Linked DNA regions of Homo sapiens. The protein of the gene in region 1 binds, or shares a complex with, the protein of each later gene. Links are inferred from orthologs where the notes say so. Each region holds a gene or a part of one and is shown in the gene's direction. Other genes may lie near its edges.

Region 1 (3,751 bases):
GAGCTGAGATCATGCCACTGTACTCCAGCTGGGCAACAGAGCAAGACTCTGTCTCAAAAAATCTGTCTCAAAAAAAAGACATATCCAGTACATTTTTTCTTTTCTTGGAGAGAATGTGGGAGAAAGGAGAAGCTGTGAACTGAACCATGGGAAATGTTCAAGCAGTGAGAGAGGACTGAGCAGAAAAACGGGGGATTATCAACAGGTCTTGGTAAATAATTAAATACAGTGAAAGAGGGAGGAGTCAAAGATGGACATGGTTTGATCTTGGTGACTGAGAGGACAATGAAATCATTAAAAAGGGCAAAGGTATTTTGAAGATAATATGTTCTAGATGATGGGGAATATAAGGAGGGATCAGTGTCTCTAGAATAAAATTCAAAAATCCATCCTAGGGAAAGCATTCAAGCCCTCTCTTGTCTGGCTGCAACCTACCTTATCAGTATTAATAACTTTGCCTCCGTCTTGCTACCTACCTCTTGTCAGTCGGGACTCTTGATTACATGTGAAAGAAAACCTCTCACTGGTTTAAGCAATAAAACAGATGCAAGAATTTACTGACTGGTTTAACGAAATTTCCAGAGGAATCTAATCTACATTTGTTTCCAGGCCTCAAACATGTCTTTAGGCCAAACCTGTCTTCAAATCTGCTTTTTTTCCGTGTTGCCTTCTTTCTCAGAATTCACGTGTGGAAAGATGGCTCCAGGTCTCCATTCTCCCAGATTTAAACCCATTGGTAAAGACGTAACACCCTTCTTAGGAACCGTAGTTTGCAACCGAGGATTAAACTCAAATATGCCTTCCCCTTGTGTCCTGCTCAGACCATATGGACTGAGAGTGGATAAATGATAGTTCTTCAAAAGAAATTATCAGAATAGGGAATGAATGCTGAACAGGCAAAAATGTCGACCAAAATATCTTCTGCTATATGATGGGGTAAATTAACAAATCATGTTTTCCCACTCCTGAAAGAAAAATCCTTAGGTGCAGGATCAAGGATCTGAATAAGTGCTTCAGTTTGATGTTCTTTTGCCCAGAGCATACAGCAAGAATTGAAAATGTTTACTGAGGTGACTGTTACTTTAAAGGGAGGATTTTACGGCCAGAAAAGTGCATTTTTTGAAAGAAAAAGATGGCTTTTATTTCAAATCCAAAAGATATTCATTAAAACATAGGAATTACTAGGAATTAAGACTGTAAAGATCTCTTTTCCAGTAGAAGCACTGAAATGTGCTTTCTCATGTGGACCAAATGTGCCTTAACGCATCAAGATAAGTAATTTCCCGAAGATAAGTAGTAGTCACACGTTGTTCCAACGAGGAAATCCATGCAAATTAGGGTCCTGGTTTATTTCTGATGCTTCATTCTCCATCTTCCATTACACTGTCACTTGATTTTTAATAAAAGGGCAAGGGAAAAATCTCCAAATGAGCAAATAAATCCCGACCTCCTTTCGCTTCCCTCCTCTGGCCGAGGGCGCATGCCCTGTCTCCCCAGGCCCACCCACCAAGAAGAAGCAACCCAAGCCGCGCTCCCTCAGGAGATGGGAGAAGATGTTACTGGCGGTCCAGGCGCCTTTGCAACTCTTCTCTCCCAGCACCAGGAGAGGAAACACGAATGATGCCACTGGGGGAAAAAGTCTCCTGCCAACACCCGAAAAATCTAAGCTGGCGTCGGCAGTGTTTTGCTTTGGAAGGGAGAGCGGGTTCCTTTTCTGGCCTCTGGATCCCTCATCCGGCAGGAAGCTCTTCTTCCTCCTCCTAGCCCCCGGCATACGGGGGGAAAGCCAAAGAGCCTCCAGGACCTAAGGCTAGCGCTCTGCCGGCCGGCCGCGCCCTCCACCCGACCAGGCCCCGCCTCCCCGGCTTTCTAGTAACCGGCGCCGTTCCCGGCCGGGGCAGGGAACGGTGCGCCTGCAGAGCCAGATTTCGGCCCAAGGGGCGCGGGAGTCTCTTCGGGCGTCCGGGATCCCCTGGCGCGGCTCCGTGCTGCCTAACGGGGCAAGTCGCATGCGCACCGAGCCGCGCTGGGGAAAGGGAGAGTGAGGGGAGGGGCGAGCGCAGAGCCTCCGCCGGCCGTCTGAGCCCGCGGGGTCGCTGACGACGCATGCGCCGGGAGGGGGCGCAATCACGGACTCGGCTTGCGGCTGCCGGTTTAAAAAAGGAAACCCCGGAGAGCGAGAGCGCGAAGGAAATCTGGCCGCCGCCGCCGCGAGCGCTCCCGGTGAGAGGCGCCCGCCCGGTGGGCCCAGGGCCTGCCGAGTGCCGGTTGGCTTCCTTGGCGGCGCATGCGCGCTCCTGGGCTGGTGGAGGAGGGGAAGGGAAGGGAGGGGGAGGAGGAGCTGGCCACAGGAGCGGCGAATTTTTGGGGGGGTGGGTGGGGGGCGCCACTCACAGCCCCAGGTGCTGCTGGAGGTGGGAGCCGCGGCGCCTCCTGGACACAGGCGGGGTAGTGGTTCCGAGTCACCGCAGCGGGAGACCTGGGTGGGGGAGGGAAGAAGCCGGAGCCGCCGCAAGCCACACGGTGAGGGCGCGGGGAAGGGGAGGGAGCGGGGGGCGGCGTGTGTGGGGCCGGGGGGCGGCGGCCAAGGGTGGGGAAGGCGGGAGCTGAAGCCCAAGTTTGGCGTGTCGTTCTAGTGTGTCTTTTCCCGGGACTTCGGGCCGAGGCCCGCCCTGCCTGAGAGGCCCTCTGGGGCAGCTGGGGTTACCTGCGGGGCAGGGGCGGGAGTGGGGTGCACGGCGGGGCCGGGCGGCTTGAGGGCGCCCGGAGCTGCGGCCGATTCCAGCAGCTGGGAGGCGGGGAAAGACGGGGACCGGGTGCCGAGAGAGCTTTCGCTGGGGACCCGCTAGGCCTTGTGACCCACTTTATTCCTGTCACCACTCGGGCACGTTTGGAGCAGCGCCCAATGGGGCGCCGGGGCGGCCAGCTCCTCCGGGGAACCCCCGCCCTCCCGGCGCCCGGCCCGCGTGCCGCAGTCCGCAGTCCGAACGGCCGCCGTTGCCGGCCGCGGGCTGGTTCCGTTAGTGGTGGTGGTTCCGGGGTTCCGTTCCTAGGCAGCGCGCGGCTATTAGCGTCTGACTCCAGCGACCGCGCGCGGGTTCGAGGGTTGGCGGCGAGGCGCTCGGTTTCTCTTCTTCCGTCCACCCGCGCTTCCCGTTCCCCGTCACCGCCGCTGGCGTTTGTAGATTTCTTTCCGCCAGTGAAGCTGGGTTTTCTGGAGTTGGCTCTGGCGCTCTGGCCCCTGGAGTGTAATTTCCTACACGCAGCGCCGCAGAGTTTATATTCTTTGAAAGTGTTTGTAGCTTTGTAGAGGTCCTCTTGTTGATGGTAGGTGAGCCTAATTCTGCAAGATAAAAGCCTAGTCTCTGACCTGGCAGATGAAAGATCAAATCAGATTGTGGTTTCCTGCTATTAGAATGCCGTGCTATTAGACTTTAAGGCTTTTTAGCCTTCTTTAAAAAATAAAAAAATTTTTACAGTGGAAGAAAAGCACAAGAAGTAAACTTTTACAGTCGTTGATTTGACTATAACGCTGATCCCCCCAAATCAAAGGTAATTTCACTTTGAAGATTGCGTTCTGATTTGTAGCTTTAAGCGATTAGAGAAAATTGTGCAATATTCCCCTCTACCTGTTTGAAAATAAACATTCTTAAAAGGATGTAATTTAGATAATGAATTGCTTTCTCTGAAACTTATCCCTTGGGACACCTCAAATCTGATTGGTTTTCAAAGCTTGGGGGAAGGAAATTAA
Region 2 (3,751 bases), on another chromosome or scaffold:
ATCCATTTTCAACTCCTAGTCAGTGTGAGCATGTAACTTTATTGTAAACTAATATCTAAGAGGAAAAAAATCAAGCAACTTCCCGAGGTTTTCAGACTTTGCCTTGCAAATTTTGGGGTTGAGAGCACCAGTAGTAAGTGAGGCTTTATGTGGTGCTATGTGTGAGTGGGTCCCTCAGCCACTCCCAGGAGGGCAGTGCTGCTACTCCTCCGAAAGAGTAAAGTTTGGGGAGGGATGTAGCCCTTTGTTCTACATCCCATGTGAGCCTCCCTGGCTGCAATGCTAAGGCTTTTTGCTGCTTAAGAGAACTTTACTGAAGATAGAGGCTTTCATATTTTTAATCATTTTCATATGAAAAATAGTCAATTTGCCATCCTAAAGTCGATTTTACATTCTTTATTTCCAACTGCCACCAACTCCCCAGGATCTAAATTTAGCATCTGTTCTCTTTTTAACTTACCTCTGTGATACCTTTCCTCACCTACCATAAGGGTCATAGTTGACCCTCCCATAACAAAAGACAGGTTAACAAGAGAAAAACATAACAGTTTTATTTAATCAAAGTTTTTTTTATGACACAGGAGTCTTCAGAAGTGAAGCCTCCCAAACTCAGGGAAAACTGTCTATTTTTATGGTTAGGTTTGATGAAGAATGGACGGCTGTGTAGAAATATGATTGGACAAAAAGGGTATGATCTGGCTGGGCATGGTGGCTTATGCCTGTAATCCCAGCACTTTGGGAGGCTGAGGTGGGAGGATTGCTTGAGTCCAGGAGGTTGAGACCAGCTTGGGCAACATAGCAAGACCCAGTCTCTACAAAAAATTTAAAAATTAGCTGGGTGTGGTGGTATGCGCCTGGAGTCCCAGCTACTCAGGAGGCTAGGGCAGGAGGATCACTTTAGCCCAGGAGGTCGAGTCTGCAGTTAGCTGTGATCGTGCCACTGCGCTCTAGCCTGAGCAACAGCGTGTGATCCATCTATAAATAAAAAACAAAACAAAAACAAAAAGAGTATGATCTAATAGTAATGGACTGAGGTGGGAAACCCAGCAAGGTCTGTCTGTCCAGAATTATTCTTGACCTCTGTGTAGCATTCCTTCCTCTCTGTTATAGGGCAGGACCCATTCTGGAATGAGGGTTTTATGATCTGCTATCGGACAAGACAGGTCAGATAATTTCTTTATGGCCAGGAAGTCGAGGCTGCAGTGAGCTGTGTTTGTGGCCTTGCACTCCAGCCTGGGCGACAGAGCAAGACACAGTCTCAGAAAAAAACAAAAAGCAACAACAAAGTGCTCATTATGCTAAAGTGCCATACTTGGGAGTATTATTTTCTGAGCCTCAAAAACCGATTGTCAGTGTTTCAGTATTTTGACTCCATGATCAATTATCTCTTATCCTACAAATTCTCAATAAGCCAGAATAAATTCCTGTGTATTTTCTGTAGCTCTATTGACTACACTTTAATAATAATAGCAAGACCTTTTTCATTGTTTTGCCGCAAGGATTGTAGAAGACTAAATTGGGATGCATTATCTAAAGTACCTGTAAAATAATCCATGTTTAGTAAGATAATGTGAAACTTCAAGAACCTAAGAACCTAAGTAAGGTTCTTAATTAGTTGCAACTAACATGAGCTACCCTCCTAATCTAAATCAACAGCCTGGTCCGACATGAATTAGTTTGAATGCCCATCCACAAGCCTCATCTACTTCCATTTTGGAGATGGCTTCTATTCACTTTTGGACAGTATTATTTTAGGAAAATTATACTATGCACATTTGTTGAATTTCATACAAAAGGATCCAATTTAATTAGAGATATAGTTTTACACTTTAGTCTACTTTTTAAGCTGGGCCGTCCATGCTGTCAAATTTCATAGCTGTCAGATAGACATTGCTTTTGCATAGTTCTCTGCAAGTTGTGACAGTGCCACTGTTTATCTTTTATGCACATAGGATTAAACGTGTGACCTGTGGAAGAGTGCTTGATTTGATGTCAGTTGAATGAGGAAGCCAGTCCCCTTAAATGAGTTAGATACGGGGCAAAATGATTTTTACTTGGAATTGTGTTTAAAATTCATTCTCATTCAGTTCAGTTTGTGTTCCCTTTAGTCTGCTCCTACAGTATGCAAAAGTACGAGCAAGAGGGTTGCTTATAAGCATCCTTGTCTTCTATTTAATTTTATTTTGAACTGCTTCTAGGGTAGTTAATGTTCTTCACTAGATCTTATATTAGCAGGAATGTCCAGACTTGGCACTCCAGGGTATTCCAGATACAGTGGTATTTGGCAGGGGGCTTGTGTTTTTCTTCACTCAAAGAACAACAGGATAGAGTCAGGAGTGCATCGTGAATTAAAACATCACAAGGCTTTGCTTGCATCTTCCCAGTTTCATTATTGTCATGTTCCCTGTTGGCCTGTTCTCCTTATGCCAGTGGTATTCCTTGTGTTATTATCATGCTGGCCTTACAGTTGCCATTCCTTGGTGACTCAAATGGCCATGTTAAAATATCTGGAATGTTCTTATTCTCAGCCAGCAATTTGAAGGGCCAATTGGTCTTATTCTTGGCACTGTTGATCTAGGTCTGGATCTGCTGTGGACTAGCTGTTTATCACTGGAGCAAATATAGGCCTCTCTCCTGGGCTTCAGTCTTACATGTGACTGCCTACCCAGGATCTCCACTTAGATGACCCACAGTAACTTCAGTCTCTACATGACCAAATCTACATGACCATGCCACCCTGCCCCACCCACCCAACTCCCTTCTGTGCACTTCTTGGGCTCCCTAGCTGAGAAAGTGGTACCACCATCTTCCCCCTACCCAGTCCCATCAGGTGGGCCTCCATGTTTTTCTTCTTCCCATCTCTACTGCCACCACCTTAATTCACCTGGACTGTCACGGTAGCAACTAAATGATCTCAATGCCACTCTTGCCCTTCTCCACTTTAGCCTCAGTTCAGCATCCAGAATGCTTTTAAAATGCAAAGCTGGTGTACACTTGTAATCCCAGCACTTTGGGATGCCAAGCCAAGCCAAGGCCCAGAGCCAAGCCCGTGGTGGAAGGATTGTTTGAGCCTAAGAGTTCACGACCAGCTGAGGCAACAAAGTGAGATCCTGTCTCTACAAAAAACAAAAAATTAGCCAGGTGTGGTGCTACATGCCTGTTGTCCCAGCTACTCCATAGGCTGAGGGGAGGATCGCTTCCATCTGGGCAGTTGAGGCTGCAGCGAGCCATGATCACGCCACTGCACTGCAGCCTGGGTGACAGAGTGAGACACTGTCTCAAAAAATAAGATAAATAAAATGCACATCTGATCATGTCACACTTCTGGTTAAAATTCTTCCATGGCTTCCCATTGCGTTTAAGTTAATATCTAAAATCCTTCCAACATGGATTCCAAGGTATTGCCTGTCTGTTCCCTGACTACCAGTCTGGCATCAGTGCATGGCATTGTACCCTTCTACACTGTGCTCTGGCCTCCCTGGCCTTTCAGTTCTTTGTTTGTGCCAAGCCCCTTGCTCCCTTAGGGCCTTCACACTGCCTGGAACATGCCTTTCGCCTAACTCCTACTAATTCCCAATCCTCCAGATCCCAGCTATGGTGCACTTCCTCAGTCCCCCAGACTGTTAGCCTCTCCCATTTATAGCTCTTATCAAAATGGTCGCTAGTTGAGTGATTACTTGATTAATGACTGTCTCTCTCTAGATCATAAGCTACAAGAAGGAAGCGACAGATGCCTATTCTGTTCATTCTA

The links.
Region 2: the proteins of CLOCK (region 1) and CIPC are in contact, whole or in part, in a crystal structure (PDB 5VJI), measured with the Mus musculus proteins. The link is inferred for Homo sapiens from one-to-one orthologs. Residues at the interface, in NP_001276755.1 of Mus musculus: Gln519, Leu526, Lys527, Leu530, Arg533, Ile537, Asn540, Ile541, Arg543, Gln544, Glu547, Leu548, Ile551, Gln554, Leu555, Val558; in XP_006515773.1 of Mus musculus: Asn401, Thr402, Val405, Leu406, Ser409, Leu411, Ile414, Thr415, Thr418, Leu421, Ile422, Asn425, Thr428, Gln429, Leu432, Leu435, Lys436, Thr439, Gln440, Phe442, Ile443, Thr446.

The regions. Positions count from the first base shown.
Region 1 is NC_000004.12:55,545,254-55,549,004, reverse strand, and holds the start of CLOCK (circadian locomoter output cycles protein kaput), read left to right. Parts: upstream 1-2,095; 5' UTR 2,096-2,223; intron 2,224-2,388; exon of another isoform or gene 2,389-3,552; intron 3,553-3,751. UniProt on the Homo sapiens protein: Transcriptional activator which forms a core component of the circadian clock.
Region 2 is NC_000014.9:77,101,107-77,104,857, forward strand, and holds part of CIPC (CLOCK-interacting pacemaker), read left to right. Parts: intron 1-3,751.